Linked DNA regions of Homo sapiens. The protein of the gene in region 2 interacts with the protein of the main gene of each other region in a biochemical or structural test. Each region holds a gene or a part of one and is shown on either strand. Other genes may lie near its edges. The genes, in order: NCKAP1, NYAP2, CYFIP1 and WASF1.

Evidence for each region.
Region 1: the proteins of NYAP2 (region 2) and NCKAP1 form a complex in vitro, tested with the Homo sapiens proteins (one study listed by BioGRID).
Region 3: the proteins of NYAP2 (region 2) and CYFIP1 form a complex in vitro, tested with the Homo sapiens proteins (one study listed by BioGRID).
Region 4: the proteins of NYAP2 (region 2) and WASF1 form a complex in vitro, tested with the Homo sapiens proteins (one study listed by BioGRID).

What each region holds. Positions count from the first base shown.
Region 1 is NC_000002.12:182,951,437-182,958,463, forward strand, and holds part of NCKAP1 (nck-associated protein 1), read right to left. Parts: intron 6,161-7,027; coding exon 6,021-6,160; intron 5,158-6,020; coding exon 5,026-5,157; intron 1,896-5,025; coding exon 1,677-1,895; intron 1,488-1,676; coding exon 1,357-1,487; intron 1,067-1,356; coding exon 969-1,066; intron 1-968. UniProt on the Homo sapiens protein: Part of the WAVE complex that regulates lamellipodia formation. The WAVE complex regulates actin filament reorganization via its interaction with the Arp2/3 complex. Actin remodeling activity is regulated by RAC1.
Region 2 is NC_000002.12:225,507,692-225,514,718, reverse strand, and holds part of NYAP2 (neuronal tyrosine-phosphorylated phosphoinositide-3-kinase adapter 2), read right to left. Parts: intron 1,349-7,027; coding exon 1,047-1,348; intron 1-1,046.
Region 3 is NC_000015.10:22,942,344-22,949,370, reverse strand, and holds part of CYFIP1 (cytoplasmic FMR1-interacting protein 1), read left to right. Parts: intron 1-1,341; exon of another isoform or gene 1,342-1,460; intron 1,461-2,052; exon of another isoform or gene 2,053-2,079; coding exon of another isoform or gene 2,080-2,085; coding exon 2,086-2,202; intron 2,203-2,278; coding exon 2,279-2,368; intron 2,369-4,431; coding exon 4,432-4,509; intron 4,510-4,711; coding exon 4,712-4,813; intron 4,814-6,016; coding exon 6,017-6,198; intron 6,199-7,027. UniProt on the Homo sapiens protein: Component of the CYFIP1-EIF4E-FMR1 complex which binds to the mRNA cap and mediates translational repression. In the CYFIP1-EIF4E-FMR1 complex this subunit is an adapter between EIF4E and FMR1.
Region 4 is NC_000006.12:110,120,647-110,127,673, forward strand, and holds part of WASF1 (actin-binding protein WASF1), read right to left. Parts: intron 6,984-7,027; 5' UTR 6,956-6,983; coding exon 6,823-6,955; intron 1-6,822.

The DNA.
Region 1 (7,027 bases), about 43 Mb from region 2:
GGTGGGTGGATCTCTTGAGGTCAGGAGTTCGAGACCAGCCTGGCCAACACGGTGAAACACCGTCTCTACTAAAAATACAAAAATAAGCCAGGCTTGGTGGTGCGTGCCTGTAGTCCCAGCTACTTCGGAGGTGGAAGTTGCAGTGAGTTGAGATTGTGCCACTGTACTGCAGCCTGGGCAACACAGTGAGACTCCATCTCAAAAAAAAAAAAAAAACAAACAAACAAAAACTAAAATATCAAGACTCAAGTAACCACCAAAAAGCTTTTACGAAGAAAATGTTTATTTTAAAACATGATTTCTCTATTCTGCTTGTAAGTTCAAAAGTTTTGGTGGCCCAAGTTCAAATTCTTTCAAAAACTACATAGTTATTATATATACAGATTCGTTTAATATAAATCACCGTAGCTGTAGGATATTTCTAAAAGGCTAATAAAAAGGTATTTAAAATGTTGTTGCTTCAGTTCCTTTACATCTTTACTGAAACATTAAGCATTCTGAAGGCATTTTTCATTCAACTTAGAGGGCATAAGATAATTTAAAAGATTACCTAAGAAAAAGCAATAAGCCCAGTAATTTTTGTATTATAATCTATGGAAAGCAAATACATTCAAACCGCAAGTGTGAACAAATTGTTAACTTTGGCTGGAATTTTGAAGCTGGTATTTCAAAGAAAACATCATGATTCAATACTATGAAGGCCTGACCACAAGCCAAAGACTCTGAGGTTCTGTCCCCTTTACCAAGTCAATTCACCTATTTTCGCTTTCCATTTTCTCACCTACAAAATAGAGAAAACTAAACTAAGATGCCATAAAAAGGCCTTGCTAGCTATTTAATTTTCATTTTCATATTAGTACTTTCATGTTGGATTAAAATAATTAACATTGTAGGCTTGTTGCTCATATCCCTGAAATGTTTTTCAGGAATTAATGTTTAAAAGCTAAAATTAATAAAGACTATATTACCTTAAGTTCAGCAACTTGTGATGAAATATGCCACATAAGGCTTTCACTTAGAAACTTCATACCATATGGGCCTAGTAGTTCTGATAATGACCTCATTTCTGAAAGAAAACATACTTAATTTTATACTTCCGACAGAGCAAATACTTTAAGAAAATGAACATTAACACAATACAACATCTCATTATAAAAACTAATGTAAAATCCTGATAAAAGTCTCTAGAGTGAAAGAGAGAATACAAAATGCAAAAGTAATTCTAAGATACAATATGCAGTTACGCATATAATTGAATGAAATAGTCACAACAGAATCAAAAGTCTAAAGAATCAAGACACTAGCAAAAGAATTAAGTGTTCTTCATTCTCTAAACTGTGGTATAGTACTATTCACCTGATATGTCAGAATATTCCTCTGCATTGAATGTTAATTCATTTTCTGTAGGTAAGTTCACAAACGCTTTCATTGCAGGAAAATATGCTATATGGCCATTGCTGACTTGTCGTAACAAAGTTTCCAAATACCTAAGGAGAAACGTAAACTTATAACCGGAAGAAACTGCTTAATTCAGAATGTATCATGATATACATTCCTGCATATAATTTTAAGTTGACTGATAATATGAATAAGTACTTATTCACAAAAAAATTAATTTTCCTAAGTACTTCATTACAAATTTTCCGCTACTACAAATTTCTAAATGCATTCCTTACCAATTTGTGTATAGACTTGTAATGGTTGGCTCTCCATGACTGTCTAAATGTTGTGTTTGTTGAAGAAGCACATTATTAAATACTCTTGTAATATCAATCTGCACATAGTTTTCTATTGACTGGAGTACGGTCATGTATGCTCTTACACTTGTTAGAAGTTCTGAAGGTTTTGCAATTTCCTGTGTGGCTTGATTATACATAGTCATCCCAACAATTGACCTGGGAAGAAGGGATAGAAGAATAAGAAAAGCCTCTGACTTTTCCATTCATGTAAAATAAACCACTCAACCTACTGTTATCTAATATTAAACAAGCAATAAAATTAACTTTAAAAATAATTTATTACAAAGCTGTAAAATTACTGTCATTATCTTCCCAGGAAACAGCGTAAAAAAAGAATGAAGGCCGGGCATGGTGGTTCACGCCTATTGTAATCCCAGCATTTTGGGAGGACGAGGCGGGCAGATGACTTGAAGTCAGGAGTTCGAGACCATCCTGGCCAACATGGTGAATCCTTGTCTCCACTAAAAATACAAAAATTAGCTGGGCCTGGCACATGCCTGTAATCCTGGCTACTTGGGAGGTTGAGACAGGAGAATCGCTTGAACCCAGCAGGCAGAGGTTGCAGTGAGCTGAGATTGCACCACTGCACTCCAGCCTGGGCAACAGAGTGAGACTGTCTTAAAAAAAAAAGAAAAAAGAAAACTTAAAAACTACAACGAAATGTGAATAAAATGATTAAAAACATTCTAAGTATACCAGTAACAAAAGTGATTTAAGTATAAAGAGGGTTTTACAAATTGCTTTAACATGGTAAGTTGTTTGTAGCAAGGACAGTGAACTATTTAGTCTACAGCTTGAATTTATTTGACACTGTTAGGTGCCAGTAGTTTTTGAGGCTTTATATAAATTACCTACAATCCTCACATTTAATAAACACCTACAATGTACTTATCACTATATCTCCCAGAGGAAAAAAATAAAGCTCAGGACTCACATAAATTGATAAGGTTTTGTTGGGAAGTGGTTATGACTAGGATTTGACCGCAGATCTGCCTGACTTAGTGCTGCCTCTAAACAAACTGTATGACAGTCAAACAAAATAAGGCAACAAACAACTTTATTTTCTTTAATCACTCATAGCATATAAAACAGTTCTGTTTATATCTCAAGAAACTGTATACGACTAAAAAGGAAACACAAATTTTGAAAATACTTCCCTAAATGATCTTATCCTACACTGACCACCCCTATTTCACTTTCTTTAAAACTCCCTGAGCATTAGATCTGTAAAGATCTTAGACTTGTATTTGTAAGGATGAATCCTTAAAAGACAACCGACAAATCCCATCACTAGAAACAGGCCAAGAAGAGCCAACGCAAGATGAAAACTGCTATCCTAGTGTATAATCCCTAAGTCCTAAGACTGTGCTCAGTTGATTGACAAAAACCAACCCACTAATATTCACAAGCTATCTGGCTGGCCAATATGGCGAAACCCCGTCTCTACTAAAAATACAAAAATTAACCAGGCACAGTGGCACACGCCTGTAGTCCCAGCTACTCGGGAGGCTGAGGCAGGAGAATTGCTTGAACTTGGGAGATGGAGGTTGCAGTGAGCTGAGATTGTGCCACTGCACTCCAGCCTGGACGAAAGAACAAAACTCCGTCTCAAAATAAATAAATAAATAAATTAAATAAAATAAAAAATCTTTCCAAGGTAAACAAGCTGTTCCCCTTGCCTTGATCCTAATCACTAAGTAGATGTTTGGTTAAAAAAAAAACTGCTTCTCTGTGGATTAACAAAGCAGACTGTTTACAAGGAAAACAAGGGAGCTGTACACTGAACTCTCCCTTCCACCCACCAATGTCCCACCTCTAACCCACTTGAGAATAATAAACACCACAAGGCACAATGCCCCTTTGGTCTAAGTTCTAGGGCATTCTGGGTTTTACTGTCAGGATGCCTGACTTACTAAGGAGAACAAAAGACAGTTCATCACCAGACTCTTCTCAAGTCAACTGATAATTTAACACTCAACTTAGTGCCACTTTATATACTGTCATATTCTGTTCTCTAATTCTTTTAGTCATCTCACCAGCTACAGTTCTATCTTTATCTCATTATTACCTAGAGTACTTAACACATTGTTAAGCATATAGTGCAAATACAAACACCACCTGTTAATGACTACAGAAACTTTGAAAACCTTTTGGCAAAATTTTGTTTTATAAATTGCTTCAAGGCTTTGAAGAAAAAAATTGTCAAATAAATAAAAATTTTCATGAATAAATATTAATAAATAAGGATGTAACTTCAGAAAAAGGTTAAAACAATATATATAAAGTTGAAAGGTTTCTGACTTATCAATGCACTATTTCATATACATACATAAAATATATATTCATATATAACAGGAAATTCTAATTAGAATTGAGAATTCAAGAATCTAGAATTCTATTGGCTTATTTAACAGCAACATGTGAATTCAGAAAACATGTAAGGGTTCATCTAGTCCTCAGGTCTTCAAACATTTTACTGTGACCTACTGCATGACACGCATCTTAACACTGCAAGTCAATACACATGCATACATGTAACTGAAACATTTCACGAAGCAATATATATATTTAATGCACACAGTGTACTGGGTTTTTTTTCCTATTTTTTCTTCCTCTTGTCCTTTCTTTCCCTCCCACTTTTCTCTAAACTTTGACTACAACCTAATAAACTGATTTCATGAACCTACTGGGTTGCCACCTGCAAGATGAAATACATTGATTTGCTCCAATATTCTCACTTTGTATATAAGGAAGCTATGACTCAGAGATATTAACTGGTTTGCCTGGTGTTACTAGTTAATACTAATAGGTATGAGAAAAGAATCTGGGTATCTTCAGTAATTTTCAGTTCACTATTCTTTGCATTTCCCAGTTCATTATTCTTGAGACAGAGTCTTGTTCTGTCACCCAGGCTGGAGTGCAGTGGCATGATCTTGGCTCACTGCAAGTGTGTCTCCCGGGTTCACGCCATTATCTTGCCTCAGCCTCCCGAGTAGCTGGGACTACAGGTGCCCACCACCACGCCCAGCTAATTTTTTGTATTTTTAGTAGAGACGGGGTTTCACTGTGTTAGCCAGGATGGTCTCGATCTCCTGACCTCGTGATCTGCCCACCTCGGCCTCCCAAAGTGCTGGGATTATAGGCGTGAGCCACCACGCCCGGCCCGGTTCATTATTCTTAACACTAATCCAGTTCTACTAATGCTTTTCCTTATAAAACACTGTATAATTAAATAACAAACTCATTACTGAGTCAACAAACAAAAACAGTCAATATTCTTTCTTACTTGGTAAAGCGTATTTCCAGATGAGAAGTCAAATATTCTCGTGGGGTAAAGGTATGTTCCCATACCACCATGTTTGGTACATAATTTATAGAGAAGCATAACTCAGAAAGTGCAGTGTGCAATTTATCAAGGCTGAAAAAAATTAATAAACAGTTAAAATGTTCACATGTCATCACAGGCAATACAAAATTAATTTTATAAATATATCAACCTTATTTGGAGATAATGCTTAGAGAATTCGACTTTTTATTCTCCTAAACTGAGAAAGTTCAAAATCTTTAAGGTTATAACTAACACATAAGAGCAATATTCTAAAGATGGCGTCATTTGTTTCTACCTTTAGGTAGTAATGAATATACTGACTTAATATACAAAGGTAGAGCTTATTCTGCACTCATAAAGATAATCACGCCCAATTCCTGAAGTACTTTCTGTTATGAGAGAAGGAAAGTTGTCTATAAAAGGGCAATGGCTTGCTCAATTTAGCAAGAAAGTAGGAACTATACTTTAAACAAAAAATATTTACCGAATTATTACCCACCTACACCTCCCCTCCAAACAATGAAGCAAGCAAAGATCCCTGAATGCTACCTGGTCTGTTATTTCTGTTTTATAATAATGACATTGGGTATGTTCTAATATATCAAAAACATGCCAAAATAAAGTCTCCACTATCTAACTTTAAATAAATTAAAAATTACAGATTGCTTATAATGTAACACACAAAATTTTTTAAACATATAATTGGCCTTCAGTACTTAGTATAAAAAGACAAATATCAACTATTACATATATTTTCTTCTAAAGGCCAAAATCTGTATTTTGAGATGAAATAAGCAACTAACAGGTTAATTAAGCTCAGAAATATTTTTTAAAATGGCTGGAAAATGAAGAATATACAATTATTAGCATTTCCTCAGTACTAATGTCAATAGAAAAAAATGAAATAAATATTTTACCTGGAGCAAAAAGGTATAATATAAGTGGATACTTACTTGGTCACAACCAGCCTGTTTTTCCTCATGCTCTCAACACCTGGTTTCTCCCTTTCAGGTTCCCCTTTCTTACCAGTCTGCTTTTTTGATTTCTTATTCACTGCTTGACTGATAGTTTTGGCACAATGCTTGGGTAGCAACTAAATTTAGAAAAGAATGAAATCTTACATTACACCAATTACTCTGAAAGCATACTAACTATTCAAGCAAACAGTAGCTGAATCCAGGCTGTGTTGCAAATATCACAACAATATTAAAAGACAGAAATATAAGTGAGATACAGAGCTTACTTAGCTAGCTTGGGTAATGCACATAGCTTGGTGAAAACAGAAACGGGTAGATCTTGGGTAAATCTTGTGTGAAGAAACACGTCATAGAGTAAATTCATAGACGCTTATTTAAATTACTATTAAAAAGACAAGTAAAAACATACCAGGCAAGCAAGGAATGAAAAAGAATATTTCACTGGAAGGATTAAATGGCCTTTGGAAAAAAACTGTGTAAAGATATGATGGTTCAGAGCTGTAGTTAGAACTACTATGTGGTGGAGCATAACGTGTAAGGTAAAGTACAGAGGTTTCAACTATTAGGAAGGGCCTTGAATGCCAAGCTAGAGGTTGGATTGTAAACTGCAGGCAAAAAGACAGCGACAATTTTTTAAAATAGCCACAGCATGAGGAGACATTTTCTTTTCTTTTCTTTTCTTTTGAGAAGGAGTTTCACTCTTGTTGCCCAGGCTGGAATGCAATGGCACAATCTCAGCTCACTGCAACCTCTGCCTCCTGGGTTCTCCTGCCTCAGCCTCCTGAGCTGCTGGGACTACAGTCGACTGCCACCACACCCAGCTAATTTTATTTGTATATTTTTAGTAGAGATGGGGTTTCGCCATGTTGGCCAGGCTGGTCTCGAACTCCTGACCTCAGGAGATCCACCTGCCTCGGCCTCCCAAAGTGCTGGGATTACAAGCGTGAGCCACCATGCCTGGCCATGAAGAGGTAATTTTCTAA
Region 2 (7,027 bases):
AAAGATCTCAATGTGCCTGTGCAATGAGCTGAATGTTTGTGCTCCCCAAATTAGAATGTTGAAAACTTAATCCCATAATGATTGTATGTGGAGGTAGAAAGGGAAGGAGAGCAGTGCTTTCAGGAATAGGATTAGCATCCTCCTACGAAGAGGCCAGGGAGGCCTTTCTGCCCTTTGAGGATACAAGGAGAAGTCGGCAGTCTGCAACCAGGAAGTGGGCCCCAACAGAGCTCTCAGGCTTCCAGCCTCCAGAACTGTGAGAAATAAATTGCTGTTGCTTATATGCCACCCAGGCTATGGTGTTTTGTTATAGCAGCCCCAAATGACCAAGATAGCTTGTGTCAAGGCACACTTAAGGCTACTTTCCCACCATGGAATTCTCAGGAGTAACTCAGGGAAGCTGAGACTCTACTAAATTCAGTAAGGCCTAAAGAGCTGGTGAGATCTAGTGTTAATATGACCTAATTTATATTCATAGACCAGCAAGGAGGCTGGGATATATTTGACTTGTATGTTTCATAGCTGAGAAAAAACACAGGCAGATAAAGGTAAAAATTGGAGATATTAAGGAGAGTTTAAGATTATAGTATGCACACACATACACACATAAATACATAAATTCATATTCATTGGAAGGAAATTCACCAAAACATTAAAAATGATTATAAGCTTTTTCTTGATATTTTCCTGAATTAAAATGTCCCCTTGATAATCAAATAATAATACCTTTAATTGTATAAATAGTATAAGAAAATATAACTTTTAGATATATTTCTGGGCAGAATAATTTTTGAATAATTTGAAGCTTTAAAGGATTAAAAAACTCATATATTGCCTACCCTTTCTGAACTATCAGAAATACATTCTTCTGGAAATTTGACAACACATCAATAAATAACCTTCCCCTCAATTCTTCTTTTCTGGGACTTCAGGGTGAGAGGCAGGATTATGTGGCCCAGTGAAGAAGGCACTTGCCCCTGGGCATGCTGACCTGAACATACTATCTGAAAGAGATTTCTAGGTGACATGGACATGGCGTGTTTTACCTTCAGTCCTCTCAGGGGTTTTCCCGCTCTTACTGGCTGCAGTGCTGCTGACTGTCTCTGATGAGGTGCTCAGCTTGGTGCTGGGGTCCCTCTTGGGTTTGGGTGGTGGTTGTCTCCGTGAGCCACAGCTGCTGTCATCGTCTGTGCCCCCAACCGAGTGCAGGGACTGTGATCTCACAGAAAAGCCACTGGAGCAAGGATGGGGAAGTCTGTCCTGAGGAGCAGGCATTGTCATGAATCCCATGCGGAAATGTTTGCCCACGTAACTTCCTTCGTGGCCTCGCCCTACTTCTCCACCTATGCTGTAAAAGAAAGCAGACCAAAAACCATGAAGACAAAAGGAGCCAGGATATACAAGATCATACATGTGAGAATATTACTAATAGGGAAAATTTCAAATCTTCATTTTAGTCCGGTGAAATGCTGCCTTTTAAAACAAACTCAAGTAGCATGAAAGCATTCTAACTTTTGTGTTAAATTTTGTTTTCCCCAAAGGAAAGAAAAAATACTGCATAGAACACTTATCTTCAATCACTTTATATTTACTTTAGGTAAATCTTATCAGTGGCTTAAAATGTAAACAAGAATTCCATGACTATGACTCAGATTCATTTTGACGTGCAATTCAGTCCTAGTGGTCAGCACTTGAGACTCTTGTCCACTTCATCAAAACCATTCCTGCTTTTATCTGCTTAATATATTGGAGAAAATGAAACAAAAAACAATAATAAATGTTCTGTTACGAAAGAAAGAAAGAAAAAGAAAGGAAAGGAAAGGAAGGAAGGAAGGAAGGAAGGAAGGAAGGAAGGAAGGAAGGAAGAAAGAAAGAAAGAAAGAGAGAGAGAGAGAGAGAAAGAAAGAAAAGAAAGAGAGGGAGGGAGGGAAAGAGGGAAAAAGAGAAAAAGAGAAAGAAAGAAGAAAGAAAAACGAAAAAAGGAAGGAAGAGAAAGAAAGAAAAGAAAAAAGAAAAAGCAAAGCAAGACAAGCAAAGCAAGACAAGCAAAGAAAGATGGGAGGAAGGGAGGGAGGAAGGAAGGAAGGAGAAAAAGTAAAAAGCAAAGGAGAGGAAGGGAAAGGAAAGGGGAAGGCAGGAAAGGAAAGGAAGGAGGGAAGAAGGAAGGAAGGAGGGAAGGAAAAAGAGAAGAGAAGAAGAAAGGAGGAAAGGCAGGGAGGGAAGGAGGAAGGAAGGAGGAAGAAAGGAGGGAGGGAGGAGAAAATATTTGCTTAAATTGGTGAAGGTATTGCCAACCACTCTCAATCCTCCAGAATCTTCAGTTACATTAGAAACAGTCCTACTAAGAAATCAGACACACAAAATAAAACAGCAACATTGAGTAAAGAAGTGCAGCTTAAATATCGTTTGATCCTGAGATGATTCTAATACTTCATAAATATTCAGTGTATGCAAAGTTTCCAAATTTAAGGTTCTTAAGTTTTACATAGGAAAGTTTGAACAAAAATATTAAAATATAAGAAATCCCCTCTAATTTTGGAACTCAAGCAATTATTTAGGAAATGACTCTTGGGCCTCTGTCTATGCTATTAAGTAATAGTGACTCCTTTATGAAAAGAAGGGACACAAATGTGAATGTAAACTTTTAAAAGGAAGATTTTTCTAGAGTTTCTTTTTATCTATGAAGTTCATTCACCAAGAGTAAACACAATTTTTTAAAAATACCATTACAAAATTTTTGACTAATTTTCTTAGATATGTTTGAATGGTAAGAAGTACCTCTGAGTATATGAAGTTTGGAAGCTTGCTGAGTCTACCTTCCCAGACATGTAAGTTTATTCAGATCTTCATTTAGTAAAACTAATTTTGGCTGGCTCTGCCTTCATAATATGATGGAATTTTATATCTTTCATATCGTTACAATGTTTGTTATGATTTTAACATTCCAGTAGGAACAATAATGAAAAATGAGATTTTCTTTTCCTCCTTCAACTGGGGACTTATGACAATTACATGTCCTTTGGGGATACAGACAAGAAGAATTTAACAAGAACATTAGATTCTTGATTCTGACCTTTAACACCAATGATAACTTGCCACTCAACCCAAAATATTTTATATGTATTTTTTTCTGAATATTTTCAACTGATACTCAGACACTAAGCACGGAGTACCATCTTTGCAATAAAGGTGGCTGGAATTTCAGTGCACTAAAAATCAACAGTATCCAGAAGCATGAATGGAGTCCAAGTGATGGCTAAGGGGCAGTGTTGACATCATAGCCGAAAGTATCCTAAGTCAGTGCAGTGTTTTTATGTGTTTTATCCTCTCTCTCTCTCTCTCTCTGTGTGTGTGTGTGTGTGTGTGTGTGTGTGTGTGTGTGTGTGTGTGTTTTAAAGAACGGCAATTAAGACATACATTAGAAGCTTATCCAAACAGAGTGGTTTGTGAAAAATGAAGAATATGAGAAAGGATGGGATAGTGGACGTGAGGGGCAGTCTTGGTATAGGAAGGTCTGTCTTCAGTTTGTGATGGTTGTGGTTTTGATCTTTCTCATAGATGATATACTTGATGTAATCTAACTTTGCTTTCAATTATTTTTCATCCTAATGTCTTTTGTTCATTTCTGTTTCATCACAGCACAAAAGGTGCTTTAAGGATTTATTTAGCCAGTCATCCCATTTCTGGTAACACAGCCAGCTGGGGAAATTTATGCATGTGTTAATGCACATGGGCATTTATGAGTTACTAAAAATAATTCTATCAGCAATTTCTCAGTTACTTTTGACCTAAATGGAGCCTGAACTTTTTCCCGGACTGACAATTTAGTCTGCTTCATTTCAGAATTATCTTTTTTAACAGCATACAACAACTTAATCTAACTCTATCTGCTTTGGTTCATATATGCCTTTTACACACACACACACACACACACACACAAACACATTAACATTTCTTTCAAGAGAAATTCAATGCATGCTTCAAGCACTAGCAGGTACCACTGCAAGTTTAGTTTGACCAGGCTGTAAATACAAGATGAAGAAATAGGACAAAAACAAATTTGGATGCGAAGACCATTGTTCAAGTCAAGGCTAGGGACAAACAGTAAAGGTGATGGCACATCTAGGTTCAAGAGACCCAGAAAGGTTATTAGCCCAAAACAAATTGAAGATTGTGAAATGCAGCATACAACTAGTTTCTGAATTTGCTAGGAACATGTGGAGTTTTTTAAATATACAGATTCCCAGACTCCATATGAAGGGCAATGATTGAATCATACCTGTTGAATCAGAATCTCTGTGGGTGTAGAAGATGAATTTGTGTTTTTAAAACTATATCCAGATGTTTCTGATGTAGCTAATCCAGAACCCCCCCAGAAATATTAAGAACAATAGTTAGGGCCATTAATGAGTAGATATATCAATTAGAAGCAATCAGGAAGAGGTAAATACTAAGCAAAATATCACGAATGAGAAAACATACAACCTATTAGCCAAATCTTATTAGGTTATCCTGCAGTAACAAACAATCCCCAATCCCTAATGTTTTTTAATGATATAGGTTTGTTTCTTGCTTGTATGAATGCACATCAACTGTGGCTCTGTTTCACATATATTCTTCACCCCAGGATGTAGCCCCATTGGGACTTTTTCTCCTGGCAGAGAAGGAAAAACACCAACTAACTTATATGTCTCTCCTGGCTTCTGCTCAGATGTGGCTTATAATCTTTCCATCACTCTCCACTGACTAAAACCAATCTTATGGTCAAGCTTGAGGTCAGTGGCCTGGGGACTTATTCTCCTCCAATAAATACTGCAAGTCATATGGCAATATATGGGGATGCATATTCCTTGTACAGGTAGGAGATCAAATACCTGGCAGCTGTGATGGTATGCAACTGAGATCTCTTAAGAGAGCACTTGCCATGAGGAATGAAGTTAATTGACGAGACAACAATGAACCATTGAGCACTTTATGTTTCCGATCCCTATAACTCTGGACTCTACAGAGTTAAAAGGTCCAGGTCCCCAAAGAGGCACACTCTTTCTAGAAGACACAGGAAGTGTCCCATTGAACAACAACTTATAGCTGCCCCTTCAGCAATTTGAACACCCCTTGTGTAGTGGGTAACGGGCAACAAGAAGCTGATCATGGTGGTGTGCACCTGTTTCCCAGACACTCTGGAGACTGAGGTGGGAGGTTTGCTTGAGCCCAGGAGTTCAGGGCTGCAGTGGGCTATGATCATGCCACTGCACCACTCCAGCCTGGGCAACAAAGAAAGACCCTAGCTCTAAAACAAAGAAACAAACAAAACAGAAGTGTCATTGCCATTGTGGAAGATATCCCTGATCCTGGTCAGCAGGAGGTAAGGCTGATTTTATGCAATGGGGCAGAGAGAAGTATGTGTGAAACCAAGGTTATCCACTTGGGTGCCTCTTGATACTGTCTTGGCCAAATGTGACTTTGAAAGGTCATACGCAGCAACCCTGGCCCAGAAAGGTTATGGTTACTAAGGACTCCAACTTCTCACGAATGAGAGATTAGTCTCTCCACCAAGTAAGCCACTGAGACAAGTGGAAGTGTTTCCTGAAGGTGGGGTGAATTTAGGATGAATGATGGAGGAGGGAGATGACGAGAACCAGTCGTAGCTCCCATACAAACTGCGGTGATGAGGGCTATAGTTTATCTCACTAACTGCACCCTTCCAAGTTTCCCCTCAAGAAGAGCCAGAAGAGAGCTAGGAGAGAACTGTTCCCAAAGCCTGCAGGAGAAGGACATCAGCTGAGTCTAGGGAGTGAACTGTGGCAGCCATGGAGGTGTGTGGCTCAGAAGTCCCTCAACAGAGAACCTCCTCTGAGGATAGCAGTCAGCTGCCAGCTGCCGTCTTCCAAATCTGGTGCAGCATTTTAGTTGAGGCTATGTTGTCCATGGGCAGCTCCTAGACAATGGATGAGCACAATGAGGTATTACACCTGATTACTTCTTCCCAGATTCAGGCAACCTTTATGGCTGGCTTTCCCTGTTGCACTGGTCAAGACCTTCCTTCTCATCACTGCATCACAGTCTGATGATCTTCCTATTCAATTGCTTTTCCTCCCCCTCTCCTTCTACAGGTGCTAGACCTGCATTGTGATCTCAGACTTGTCCTACCTCTTCTGCTTCCTCCTTCTTTATCTCTCACAGGCATTCTTCCCAATAAACCTCCCAGACTTCTAACTCTGTCATGGTGTCTGCTTCCTGGGAGACCTGAACTGACATACTTGGGAACAATTCCTCCGGCATTCAGAAACCAAAGAAGCAGGGAAAGAGAAGGCATCACGACAAATGGAAGACCCCAGAAATAAGGAATGCCTGTGAAAATAGGTCATTCTCCTGCTTCAGACTGAGCATTTAAATGAGGCTTGAGGAGTTAGAAGCTAACTTCACTATAGGAATATTTGGCTGGAAGTGAAAGTTATGTGGGCTAAAGAAAGAGTCTTGTTGCAATAAGACTCCAACACTCAAGATAGATTAAGCCTGACACATCTCATGTTATAAAAATAAAAACAAGTTTCATAATCCTGAATTTAAACAAGTATGCTTTTTCTCATATAATGAAGGCAATGTTGTGAGATCTACTTGTCTGTTGGTTAGTTATTCCATTACAAAACACAAAGTGTAAAATATTATCTAAATCAAGGAGGGTTATTTTTCCAGAAGTAATTGATGCAATGTTTGTAAATATCTCCACCAAACAAATTATTGGCTAGTAGACAGGCCTGGACATTTGTGCACTGGAATCATGGAGTTATAGACTATCCCAGAGCCATTATTTAGCAGCTGTATAACATTAGCTACTGAATCCCTGGGGCCATTTCCTTAGCTGTTTAATAGCGGCATTGGCCCCGTCAAACTGGTATCAAATTTACCTGATATACTGCATATGAAGCATTTAGCAGTCTGATATATAAAATGCAGTCAATAATTTTAGCCATAAAATTCCTACATTTAAGTCTTTTCCCACTGAATTTTGCTTATAGGATAGTCA
Region 3 (7,027 bases), on a different chromosome or scaffold from region 2:
ACACGTTCCCATCTTGAGGGAGGATCCCAAGTTGGCACCTCCCCGCTTTAGGCTTAGGCGCATTGTGCCCGCCTTCCGGCCCGCCTGGTCCCCGCTTTAGGCTTAGGCACATTGTGCCCGCCCTCCGGCCTGCCTGGTCCCCGGGGGGAATCCGCGGCCCTCCCACTGTTGCTCTGTGCTCTGCTGAGCGTCATTTCTCCTGCTGTTTTCAAGATCTGTTTTCCTTTATCTTTAGTGTTCAGCAGTTTGACCGTGATGTGTCTGGGTGTGGATTTCTTGTTTGTCTTGTTTGGGATCCATAGAGCTTCTTGAATCTGTAGACAAAAGACTTTCTCCAAATTTAGGGTGTTTTCTGTCATTTTTTTCAGCTGTTTTTCATCACTGCTTGGTTTCCCCTTTTCCTTTTGCACTCTCATGGCACAGATGTTAGACCTTCTCTCTTGTCCTGAAGATCCCCAAAATTTTTTCAATCTTTTTTTCTCTCTGGTATTCAGATTAGAAAACTTAACATTGCTCTATCTTCAAGTTCACTGAATCTTTCCTGAGGTTTTTTTTTTTTTTTACATTTCAGTAGTGTGTCTTTTAGTTTTGAAATTTCCATTTGGTTCTTCTTTATATCTTGTTTTGTTTGCCTTTTGCTGATTTCCATTTTTTCATTCAGTTTGGGAGTGTTACAATCGTTAGAGCATTTCATAGCACAGTAGTTGCTTTAAAGTCGGGTGGATAATTGCAGCACCTGTGTTATTTTGGCATCTGTTGATTCTCTTTTCCTGTAGGAGCCCATACGTTCCTCGTTCTTTGTGTGCTGAGTAATCTGGGCTGTAAGTGGATGGTTGGATGTTATGATATGAGATCTGGGTCTTGTTAAAATCCTAGGAGGATGTTGATATTTTTATTTTAGAAAGCAAACACCCTGAGGAGACTTGGGCTGTGGTTCTGACTTGCCTTCAGTGGGTGGCAGCTCCATGTCAATTCTGGCTTCACAGCCTCCTGCACTGCCACTTGGACCTGCCCCCTGTGTGCCGCTGGTGGCTGTCTGGCTGTGGTCTCAGGGTTTGGGGTGTGAAGAGGATCAGATCCACACCCCTGCAGCTTGAGGATGGGCTTGAAGCTCATGAGCAATTTTGTCGGCTGGCTCTTCTGAGCTGCTTCCTCTCCACACTGCCACTGGGGCTTCCTGGGTCCCTGGAGAGCTTCCCTTCTCCACCCTCAGCCAGTGCAGTGGGACTGACTACCCGTTCCACTGTGCACCTCCATGCCTGCGCCAGTGCTGGAGGAGGGATTTGGGGCTCCTTCTGTTCAGTGTCTCCTCCAGGCCACCTGCTGCTCTTTCCTTCATAGAATGTGGCTCAGCTGCCCCTGGTCCCATCCCAGGGCAGAGCTCCTCCTGAGTACCCTTGAGACTGGAGCAGATTCAGCAGAAGGCAGATTGCCCCCTCTCCCTGGAGCTGGCTCTGAAGGTGTGTTTAGACGATGTCTGCCTTCATTTCTGCACCTCTGCTCCAGCTGCGGTGTGGCACTTTCTGTCCCCTGCGGCAGCCCCATACTCCTTGCAATCTCAGCCTGTCTGTGCAGCTAGACAGCTGGTGTTGGGCGGCAGGGCGCTCGTCTTTTCCATGTCAGGCCCTAGTGTGTTTGGAGGCACCACCTGGGAGGTGGCTGCATTTAGGGAGGCTCTGCTGGGCAGATGTGGCATTGGAGAGGTGCTGCCCCTCCAGCACTTTGAGGGGGTCGTCAGACCCTCGAGAGAGTCCTCAGCACCAGCAACTCAGGACGGCGGCCCCCATGGTGGGAAGGATGGCAGGAACCATGTGCCCCATACTGTGACCCTCCTGGAGGCCAGGAGAGCCTGTTCTCAGCGAGTGTGGAAGGATAAGCTGCACAGGGCCTCCCAGCCTGCTGGCCCACGTGCCCTGAGAGAGACACGCAACTCCCAAGGACTGATCATGCCCCTGTCAGCCATGTCCGGTGCCCTCGGGAGAGCGGGAAGGGGTTAGAGGCCTGGGTACCCAACCTCGAAGCTTGTTGGGTGTCCCCTCCTTCTCCTCACAGAACAGGGGTCCTTATGTGTTGTTCCAGCCCAGGATGGCGGCCCAGGTGACTCTGGAGGACGCGCTGTCCAACGTGGACCTCCTGGAGGAGCTGCCCCTGCCCGACCAGCAGCCCTGCATCGAGCCCCCGCCATCCTCGCTGCTCTACCAGGTGGGTGCCCAGCAGCTGCAGGGCGTACAGCCTGTGCTCCGACCCCACATGATGTTTTTCTCTTCCTTTCCTTCAGCCAAATTTCAACACTAACTTTGAAGACAGAAATGCATTTGTTACTGGCATCGCAAGATACATTGAACAAGCCACCGTCCACTCTAGCATGGTAATGTTGCGGTGTGTCTTTGTTTCTCTCTGCAGAGAAGGGCGTGTTTGAAGGACAGATGTATACTTTTTGGTATTATCCCAATAGACTATGCAGTGAGGAAAAAGAGAAGAAAATGAATGAAATGCCTTATATTTTTAAGACAGTCTTTGCTTTTCTTAGTGTAAAAACAATACATGCTGGTTCTGAAAATTCAATGTCTCTGGCCCAGAGAAAACCTTTGTCAGCGTTTCAAGGGTGCACCTGCCCTGTTAATGCTCATTCCCTCTCCAGATCTGCACCCACACACACCAGGTATGTGCCCATATGAGATTTAGATTTATAAATGAATTGCATTGTTATTATAGTTCTGCTTTTTTTTTGAGACAGAGTCTTGCTCTGCCACCCAGGCTGGAGTACAGTGGCGCGATCTTGGTTCACTGCAACCTCCGCCTCCCAGGTTCAAGCAGTTCTTGTGCCTCAGCCTCCCGAGTAGCTGGGACTACTGGCGCCCACCACTACGCCCAGCTAATTTGTGCATTTTTAGTAGAGACAGGGTTTCACCATGTTGGTCGGGCTGGTCTCGAATTCCTGACCTCAAGTGATCTGCCCACCTTAGCCTCCCAAAGTGCTGGGATTACAGGCATGAGCCACCACACCTAGCTAGTTCTGCATTTTAATGGTCTCATCAACAGGTTTTCTTTCTTTCTTTTTTTTTTTTGAGATGGTCTCACTCAGGTTGCCCAGGCTAGAGTGCAGTGGTGTGATTAGGGCTCACTGCAGCCTCAACCTCCCGGGTTCAAGCAATCCTCCCACCTCTGCCTCCTGAGTAGCTGGGACTACAGGCACACACCACCATGCCCATCTACTTTTTTGTGTTTTTTGTAGAGGCGAGGTCTCACCATGTTGCCCAGGTTGGTCTTGAATTCCTGGACTCAAGGAATCCGCCTGCCCAGCCTCCCAAAGTACTGGGATTACAGCCTGAGCCACTGCACCTGGACAAGAATATTTTCATGCCATGAAAATGTGCTAGAGAAAGCAATCCTTAATGGCTACGTAAACCATTTTGTAAATGTCCACAATTCAACTATTTTTGCGCATTGACTTCCTCTTTTATGTCGTGTAATAAAAAAATGCTGTAGGCTGGGCGCAGTGGCCCACGCCTGTAATCCCAGCATTTTGGGAGGCCAAAGTGGGCGGATCACCTAGGGTCAGGAGTTCGAGACCAGCCTGGCCAACATGGTGAAACCCTGTCTCTACAAAAAAAAAAAAATACAAAAATTAACCAGGCATGGTGGTGCGCACACCTGTAATCCCAGCTACTCAGGAGGCTGAGGCAAGAGAATTGCTTGAACCCGGGAGGCAGAGGTTGCAGTGAGCTGAGATCGTGCCACTGCACTCCAGCCTGGGGGACAGAGCAAGACTCGTCTCAAAAAAAAAAAAAAATACTGTGATGAACGTCTCACTAAATAAAGGCTAGATTTAAGAGCATCTATTTGATTTTTTCCAAAGGAAACGATGTTAAAGAGTGGAAAGCAAAAGCAGTTTTACAGCAGTGATGACAGTCCTCTTCCCATGGACTCTCTACCTAGATTTTAAGTGCTGTGGGCGTGCTCCTAACTTTTCCTCCTGCACACCCGGGGCTGGCAGCCCTGCCTCTAGTCCTCTCTGGGACCGGGAGGCCCTGTGAGCCAGTGAGGAGGCCATGGGGATCCTGTGTGTGCTCACACCGGGCAGGGCGTCTGCCCTGAGCCCTTCCTCTGTGTTCCTAACTGCAGGTCTCATGGCCAGCAGGTTGTTGAGGGCTGGGTGGAGCCAAGGTGTAACGCCTGTGGCACCCCTCAGAGATGCCTGCGTGTCACTGACACCCCTCTCGCCTGCAGAAGCCATGGGGTGTTTTGGGTGGTCATTGTGGCCCCCAGCGCCGCACCTCAGTGTCACTAGCTTCTGGCAGCCGTCTCTTGGCACACAGGCCACAGTGCTTAGGATAGTTTGTGGCGCTTTGTCTGGATTTTAGCAACTGGCATCTGCTTTTCATGCTAGTTCCCCCGCCTGCCTTTGATTTGCCCTGTGTTCCATTGCAGAACGAGATGCTGGAGGAGGGCCAAGAATATGCTGTCATGCTGTACACCTGGAGGAGCTGCTCCCGGGCCATCCCACAGGTGCCACGCTCGCCTGGCTCTTCCCCTCCAGCCACACCCTGCCAGGCCCCTGCCACACCACACCCCTGCCCCTGCCATGCCTGGCCCACTCTCCTCCCAGTTCTCACCCCACAGCAGGGCGGGATCACTAGCTCTAGAAGCCCAGCGGCTGCTTCTGGCTGGATCAAAGCCTCTTATGTCATCCTTGTTCCTTTATTCCCAGGTGAAATGTAACGAGCAGCCTAACAGAGTGGAAATCTACGAGAAAACCGTGGAGGTTCTGGAGCCTGAGGTCACAAAACTGATGAATTTCATGTACTTCCAGGTAAAATGGCAAATAATCTGGGGGGGGTGTAACACCGAGGGGTGGGTTGCTGACCCCTTCCTACCCATCACTGTCACTGTGAACACCCTGAACAGAGTGCCTGCAAATTAAAGCAACCAGTTTCTGAGACAAAAGGGACCAAGCCTTTGACAGTCTAAAGTTCCTCATGCCCTTTCGGAATCAACGCTCCTTTTGTGGTTCACTTCTCTTCTCTGAGAGTGATTTTATGTTTCCTTCATGGAGCCTGCTTTCTGTCAGTTTCAAGTACAATGCTTTGACTTTTTGCCAGTTTGTACTTTTTTTTTTTTTTTTTTTTTTTGAGACAGAGTCTTGCTTTGTCGCCCTGGCTAGAGTGCAATGGCATGATCTCGGCTCACTGCAACCTCTGCCTCCCAGGTTCAAGCGATTCTCCTGCCTCAGCTTCCTGAGTAGCTGGGATTACAGGTGCCCGCCACCACGCCCAGCTAATTTTTGTATTTTTAGTGGAGACAGGGTTTCACCATGTTGGCCAAGCTGGTTTTGAACTCCTGACCTCAGATGATCTGCCCATCTTGGCCTCCCAAAATGCTGAGATTACAGGTGTGAGCCACCACGCCTGGCCAATTTGTACTTTTGTTTTCGTCTGCTCTTTCAGGTATTTTCTTGCTGTTAGCCTCACCCTGACTGTCCATTCCTGGTGGTCCTCGCCCTGGCCTTGGTTAGGCAAGAAGTAGCCACATGGAAGGGGCTTGCTGCTTTTTAAAGAAGTATTTTGGAAACATCCAGATTTTTTATGATGATGTCCTTCAGCAAAGGGAGGAGATGGAACTAACTGGGAGATGAATTTTTGTTTTACCTTGAAAGTTACCAAGAGGAAAAAAATCTCTCCCAGTTTTCACTTCTGAAAGTTAGAACATCTGAATTTTACAGGCGTTTTATTGGAGCATTTTGCTCAGTAATTTTGCTGGAATAATCAGCAAGATTTTGTTACTTTAGTGATGTAGTTGGTAAAGTGCAAGTCAAGTAATGATGGTGCAGAGCAGGCAGTGGGAGCTGCTTTCAGGAAGGGGTCTGGTTGCCCACATTGTAAACACTTCGGCCTGGAGCCTCACTGGGCAGATCGTTTCTCATCGAGGAGCAGTGACTGCAGGTGCTTGAAGGAGGGACATGGGCTTGGCTCCTCACTGACCTGCAGCTTTCTGCCCTCCTGCTTCCTCTGCACAGAGAAATGCCATTGAGCGTTTCTGCGGGGAAGTGAGGCGCCTGTGCCATGCCGAGAGGAGGAAGGACTTCGTGTCAGAAGCCTACCTGATCACACTGGGCAAATTCATCAACATGTTCGCTGTGCTGGACGAGCTGAAGAACATGAAGTGCAGTGTGAAGAACGACCACTCAGCGTACAAGAGGTGAGCACCCACCTCGCGCACTGCGGGCCCTCCCGAGAGCACCCAGCTCAGTGGCCTGCCTTGTGCACAGCAGGTGTGCGTCTTTGTTTGCTGAAGTCGTCACTTCTGGTAGGCAGCAGCTACGTCTCAGTGTCAGGGCTGTGTGAGCACCTGCTTCGAGGGATAAGGTGAGGGGAGCCAGCAGATAAGTGCATATCGTGGCTTTGCACAGCTAGAGCAGGCTCTTCGTGCCCTGGCTGTCCTCAGATGTCACAGAGGACCTTCGAGCCCCTGGGAAGACAGACATGCACAAGATGTAGGCCTAGCTCACAGAGCACAGGCATCTGGCTCAGGGAGCATCTTGGCAAGGGGGCAGGTGGCCTCTGCAGCCTACCTTGGGCGTTGGGGCTGCAGTCCTCGGTGCCGGTCACTCGCCAGCGGGGGTCCCCAGCACATGAGCACCATCCCAGCAATGTGCAGACGTGGCCCGTGCACAGTCACAGGGTGTCTCGTGGTCACACTGCGCTTCCAGATCCTCTCCCTGGTGGTTTTCTTTCTGGATGTAGAGAGCTTCTGGAGAAGCTAGCCTCTGGAGAGGCTGGCAAGACGAGCGGAAGAGGCAGGCATGGCCCAGTGTGTGCTTCTGGAGCAGTGTGGGGCAGTGGGTGGCCGATGGGCATTTGGTGACACTCGGCGCGCTGCCGACCGGCGTTCGGTGACACTTGGCACGCTGCCGACCGGCGTTTGGTGACACTTGGCACGCTGTCTCCTGATGCTCTTGCTCTGCTTCATCTGTGCTCAGTGCTTTTGAAGACATGTTTTGCTGGAATGAGATGCTAATTTCAATTTC
Region 4 (7,027 bases), on a different chromosome or scaffold from region 2:
AGCTACCAATGACTTTCTTCACAGAATTGGAAAAAACTACTTTAAAGTTCATATGGAACAAAAAAAGAGCCTGCATAGCCAAGACAATCCTAAGCCAAAAGAACAAAGCTGGAGGCATCACGCTACATGACTTCAAACTACACTACAAGGCTACAGTAACCAAAACAGCATGGTACTGGTACCAAAACAGAGATATAGACCAATGGAACAGAACAGAGCCCTCAGAAATAACACCACACATCTACAACCATCTGATCTTTGACAAACCTGACAAAAACAAGAAATGGGGAAAGGATTCCCTATTTAATAAATGGTGCTGGGAAAACTGGCTAGCCATATGAAGAAAGCTGAAACTAGATCCCTTCTTTACACCGTATACAAAAATTAACTCAAGATGGATTAAAGATTTAAATGTAAGACCTAACACCATAAAAACCCTAGAAGAAAACCTAGGCAATACCATTCAGGACATAGGCATGGGCAAACACTTCATGACTAAAACACCAAAAGCAATGGCAAGAAAGCCAAAATAGACACATGGGATCTAAATAAACTAAAGAGCCTCTGCACAGCAAAAGCAACTACCATCAGAGTGAACAGGCAACCTACAGAATGGGAGAAAATCCTTGCAATCTACCCATCTGACAAAGGCTTAATATCCAGAATCTACAAAGAACTTAAACAAATTTATAAGAAAAAAAACAACCCGATCAAAAAGTGGACAAAGGATATGAACAGGCACTTCCCAAAAGAAGACATTTACACAGCCAACAGACATATGAAAAAATGCTCATCATCCCTGGTCATCAGAGAAATGCAAATCAAAACCACAAGGAGATACCATCTCATGCCAGTTAGAATGGTGATCATTAAAAAGTCAGGAAACAACAGATGCTGGAGAGGATGTGGAGAAATAGGAACACTTTTACACTATTGGTGAGAGTGTAAGTCAGTTCAACCATTGTGGAAGACAGTGTGGCAATTCCTCAAGGATCTAGAACTAGAAATACCATTTGATCCAGCGATCCCATTACTGGGTACATACCCAAAGGATTATAAATCATGCTACTATAAAGACAAATGCACATGTATGTTTATTGTGGCACTATTTACAATAGTAAAGACTTGGAACCAACCCAAATGTCCATCAATGATAGACTGGATTAAGAAAATGTGGTACATATACACCATGGAATACTATGTAGCCATAAAAAAGGATGAGTTCATGTCCTTTGCAGGGACATGTATAAAGCTGGAAACCATCATTCTAAAAAAACTATCACAAGGTTGGAAAACCAAACACCAGATGTTCTCACTCCTAGGTGGGAATTGAACAACATGAACACATGGACACATGGTGGGGAACATCACATACCCGGGTCTGTCGGAGGGTCGGGGGCTGGGGGAGGGATAGCATTAGGAAAAAATACCTAATGTAAATGACGAGTTGATGGGTGCAGCAAACCACCATGGCACATGTATACCTATGTAACAAACCTGCACACTATGCACATGTACCATAGAACTTAAAGTATCATAATAAATAAGAAAGAAAGTAAAGAAGCAGATCTCCGATTTTAAAAAATGGAATCCAAAAAAAAAAAAAAGAAGACATAGAAGAAGTGGTGTCAGAAAACAAATTGACATTAGAGAATCTGGCAAAAGCGTTCCAATTATTCAAGACTACTTTTGATTTATTTTACAACGTGAACCCTTCTATGATACAGTACCAAAACTAAAGCAAATAAAAGGAGGATTGGTACCATATAAAAACATTTTTAGAGAAATGAAGAAGCAAAAAAGTCAGAAATCAAGATGTGTTTTTGTAAAGTTACACCAGTGTGCCCACCTCTACTACTTCTACCTCCTCCACCTCTCTGCCTCTGCTACTCCTGAGACAGCAAGACAAACTCCTCCTTTTCCTTCTCCTCTTTGGTCTGCTCAATGTGAAGATAACGAGGATGAAGACTTTTATGATGATCCACTTCCAATTAATGAACAGTAAGTATATTTTTTCTTATGGTTTTCTTAATAACATATTCTTTTCTCTAGCTTACCTTATTGTAGGAATACAGTATACTACTACACATACAACATAAAATATACATGTTAAGCAACAGTTTATGTTCTCGGTAAGGCTTCTGGTCAATAGTAGGCTATAGGCAGTTAAGTTTTGGGGGAGTCAAAAGTTATATGCAAATTTCTGGCTTCACTGAGGATCTGTGCCCCTTACCCCTACACTGTTCAAGGGCCAACTGTATTTTAAACTTTAAACCCTATCTAAAGTCACCCAGCCATGACAAAGTGGGGAAAAAAAAAGAGATACCCTGGGAAGCCTGCTTTTAAACCTTGTTCTACTACTTTCTGTTAAATGATTTGTGTCTAAAATGGAAATTACTTGCTTTATCTATATCTGTCCACCTGATGAGGGTTAGAGAAGATTATGATGTAAAGGTATATGCAAATAATATGCCTGTCAATCTGAAAGCATTTATATGTAGACTGTAGCATTTATATATAATCAGCATTTATATATAATCAGCATTTATATTAGCTAGAAATAAATTTTAGGCCAAGTAGCAGAACCCAAGATTCATCAAAGACCTAGAAGATTATCTGTCCCAGGGATGCCCAAGATATAGATTCAGAAATTTAGGAGATCTTTTACACCCTCTTGTTACAACTTCTGAAAAAAAAAAATCATAAATCTAAAATCACTGTATTCCTCTAGTTGTGTAAGTTCTTATTACTGAAAAGAGTAAGCCAAAATAACTTGAAGAAGATCCCTGCCATTACTGAATTTTGAGCAGAGGGAGAACCAGACATTTAAGCAAATATTTAAAGCAATTTAATAGATAAGTCCTAATATTTGTTCTATTCACTGTGAGACCTTGGTATCAATTTCCTTATCTGTAAAATAGGAATAAAAACATCTGTCTCTAAAAGAAGCAAGAAAAGAGCCTTGAAGTGCACCTCATACAGAGGAGCCCAATAACAGGCAGCTCTTAATATAAGGTAAGAGCAACACAGCAGAGATAGAAGCACCTCACTTTCAGGTGTCAAAAGTTATTTGGTGATCAAGATACTTCCAGAGACAGTTTCTCTGGCAGATAAGGGAAGCATCCCAAATGGAAGAAAAAGCAGGTATAAAGTTACTCATTTATTCAACAATTGGTAGGGATACAAATGCTAGGTGTAGATACAGAGATGGAAAAGACTAATCTTGGCAATAAGAACTGACTATATTCCATAAGAGAAAAGCCAGGGGAAGAGATCCCTTAGGTATTCAGAATCCCAGTGGTTGTTAATGAAAGGAGTTAGCTAGCTTGCTTTAGGCAGACAGTAAGGGAAGGGTCCCCAGAGAACCTCTGACCCACCCCACAAGGGCTTACACCAGATGCTTTGTGCAGATAAGGGAACTTGCACAGGGGGCTTGCTTAAACATGCCCACAGCAGACTAAGGGCCTGCATGTGCACTAGGGAAATGTGGTGAAGCCACCAGTAATCTGTGCCTCATACAAATAGGGAACCCAGCCCCATCAGCGTCTCTCTCTCTCTCTCTCTCTCTCTCCTCTCTCTCCTCTCTCTCCTCTCTCTCTCTCTCTCTCTCTCTCTCTCTCTCTCTCTCTATATATATATATATATATATATATATATATATATGCCCTTGTATTCAACTGTGACGGGGCAACCTGGAACCTGCTTTCAGGACCCCTCTCTTGGCTGAGAGCTTTCCTTTCACTTAATAAATTCTACTCCATTCACTCTTAGAGTATCTGTGTGCCTAATTCTTCCTCATCGTGAGACAAGAACCTGGACCTAGCTCAGCTAAGGAGTAAAAAACCTTGCATCATTAAGAAAGCAATAAAATGAGAAAGAGGAAATTGATATAAAGTGAATTATAGGTTTGTGGTAATTACCTAATACAAAACAGAATTATGTTCTACTAGGAAAAATCTCACAAAAAACAGATGTACTGGCTGGGTATGGTGGCTCACACCTGTAATCCCAGCACTTTGGGAGGCCGAGGCGGGTGGATCACTTGAGGCCAGAAGTTCAAGGCCAGCCTGGCCAACATGGCAAAACCCCATTTCTACTAAAAATAATACAAAAATTAGCCAGGCATGATGGCACTCGCCTGTAATCCCAGCGGCTTTGGTGGCTGAGGTACAAGAATTGCTTGAACCTGGGAGGTGGAGTTTGTAGTGAGCCAAGATCGCACCACTGCACTCCAGCCTGGGTGACAGAGCAAGACTCTGTTTCAAAAAAATAAAAAAAGGAAGTACATTTTTGTGAGGAAAAGGTCAGGAAGATATCCAGCCCTGAGCCATGTGGATCCCTGCAGTTTACTTTCATTGCTATATTCTCAAGCACTTTCAGTACTAATAATAGCACCAAAGTGAAAATCTCCATTATCTAGAAACATTTTGGATAGCCAAGTTTTCTAAGTAATTCAGATTTTATTATCTAATACATCAATTGTTATTTTAACTATTTTCGATGGAAACTTGTGAAATGTATTCTAAGCTTCCCTCTTCTTAAATGGAATATAAAATTAAACATAATTTAATTTTTTCTTAGGGACTCACGGGCATGAATTATGAAAATCAAATATTATCCTAGGCCAGAAAACAGCCTTGAAATGTATAAGGATATTTGCTTTACATTAAATGGCTTCTTTCCAGTTTTTATGTTGCATCTTCCCTTACATCACTTTGTCCTTTCCTGTGAACTACCTCCTTTTGGTTGGGTTCAGTGATGCCTCCTTCTAGTATCTCCTCCCATGCTTCCTCCTTTTATCCTCTGAAGCATAACTGTTTGGAAACCACATCATCAAATCTGTTTGAACTATCAAGGTAAAAGTAAACAGGTTTTGAGAGAGGGATCAATTGGTTATTTTATGTGCATGGTCTTTAGTGCATGAGTTTATTTATTCTGGCTATCTAGAGGCCTTTTAAATTTAATTCCAGGTTCTCAACTATGTCAAGTGGGAAAGCTGCCAGAGAAGTTAATTTCAGGGCAGTAAGCTATTGTCACACCTTGCTAGAATATTTTATGGGTTTTCTCTTTGTTTTTGAATCTCTACAAACTGCTTAAACAATGCCTTCCAGGTCTCTGATTCTAAATGTGAAGCACCCAACACCTAATTTAGTTATATTGTTACAAGGTATTTATAATTTTCAGAGTTTCGCTACAGCATAACCATGTGCCTGCTGATAGATGTTGCTTATATGGACTATATAGACTTAAAAATTCCTTAAATTTTCATCTTTAAGTTTTGTAACAAATGGGTTAGTACTGCAAATTATCACCCTTAATCACAATATTAGTTCTAAATTCTATATTGGGTATATACCTAAAATAAGATGCCTGTACTGGATCCACAATTCATTTTAAGAAATATGTTATACAAAATTACTAATGCCATTTCTATGTTCTTAACATGTATTTTAATATTAGCATGCTTATATACTTATGTATGTACATAACATATATAAAACAAATTTTATATGACATCATGTTATACTTGATTCAATCCGTGCTAGGTCACAAAAAATCTGCAAAATATCTTTAAACAATATAGTTAATCATATTTAAACTGGGAACTCTAACACTTTTTTTATTAGCCTCAAGTAAACAATACAATATTTTAGTGATTCACTAACCTGAAAAAAATGACCACTGAATGGAACAAGGAATATACTTAAAATTCAAATAAAATAGCCTTTTATTTATTCTTACTATTTCACAGGCAATGCAAAAATTTAGTACTCTCACAGAGAATATTCAAATGTAACTTTTTATGTTGCTCTCGCTACAGGTATGCCTAAACTTTCTTACCGGAAACAAATTAGATTAACAACCTCTTGTGCTAAGTACTCAATTATAAAAGAAAGGACAAAAGTTAAAAGGAAAAGAAAAGAAAAGCCAAGCCTGCTTATCAGGAGAATTTATATGGCTGATGAGATAAATCTAGGACCACTTGGTGGATATTATCTCTGCCAAGAACACCTTGTTTCACCTTTAAAATGAAATATCAATGTCTTATGAAAAAGCTAATCCTTCAATGCAAAAGACAGACCAGATTTTTTAAATTTTCTAAATAAACTTAGAATAGAAAATAATTTGTTTAATTCCTTAACCAAGTTGCTCTATTCTGTAAATCTGCAATGAGAACATATTGCCTGTCTCCTTCTCCCTAATCTGCCTCTTTCACTGGCCTTTATTCTCTGGCCAACCTGCTTGACTTCTGTCTGCCAGAGGCCAAGTTCATTTGCTGTTTTCACACAATGCTGCATATCAGATTCCTGACTTATATCCTAATGTCTCTTAGACATCCCACTTGACTAGCCTACCCCTCTGACTAATAATGACCCCATACCTCTCACCTTAGATCTTTGCTAATATAAAAATATTTCCCTAAACTAATTAAATATATATATAAAGAGAGGGATACTAGTGTTTGAAAACACAAATAGTTGAGGCCTCTAAACAGAGTAAATAGTGATAATAACCAAGGAAAAGTACAACTCTGGTCCTTTCGCAGATTATATATTTTTAAAACAATCTCAATAATTTTCATTCATCATGTGTTTCTGTTCCTAGAGATTCTGTCCGTATTTTCCTTTCCCAGAAGAAACATCATGCAGAAGAGGTTCTTGTAAAACTCAATAATTATACTCATGTGACTATATTTTTCAGGATAATTTTGTACTCTTCTCACCAAATCATACTCCCAAATTAATCAGAAGCACAACTTCTTAATACGCTAAAGCATAACATTCTGGTTTGTGAGTATATTTTTAATTGATATATACTTACTTAGGCTACTTAGTTGTCTAATTATATTTGCCAAGGAAATATTGGTTACACATTCCAGTTCATTCTTAATGCCTCTAGGCAGTGCTGTGTGGCACAAGTGCCTAGGATCGATGTTTCTTTTCACTAGCGGCATCTTGAGATTAACCTTTGTGCCAGTTCACCTGTAGGAAATCAAAAATAAATTAACAATATTAAATTTCAGCCA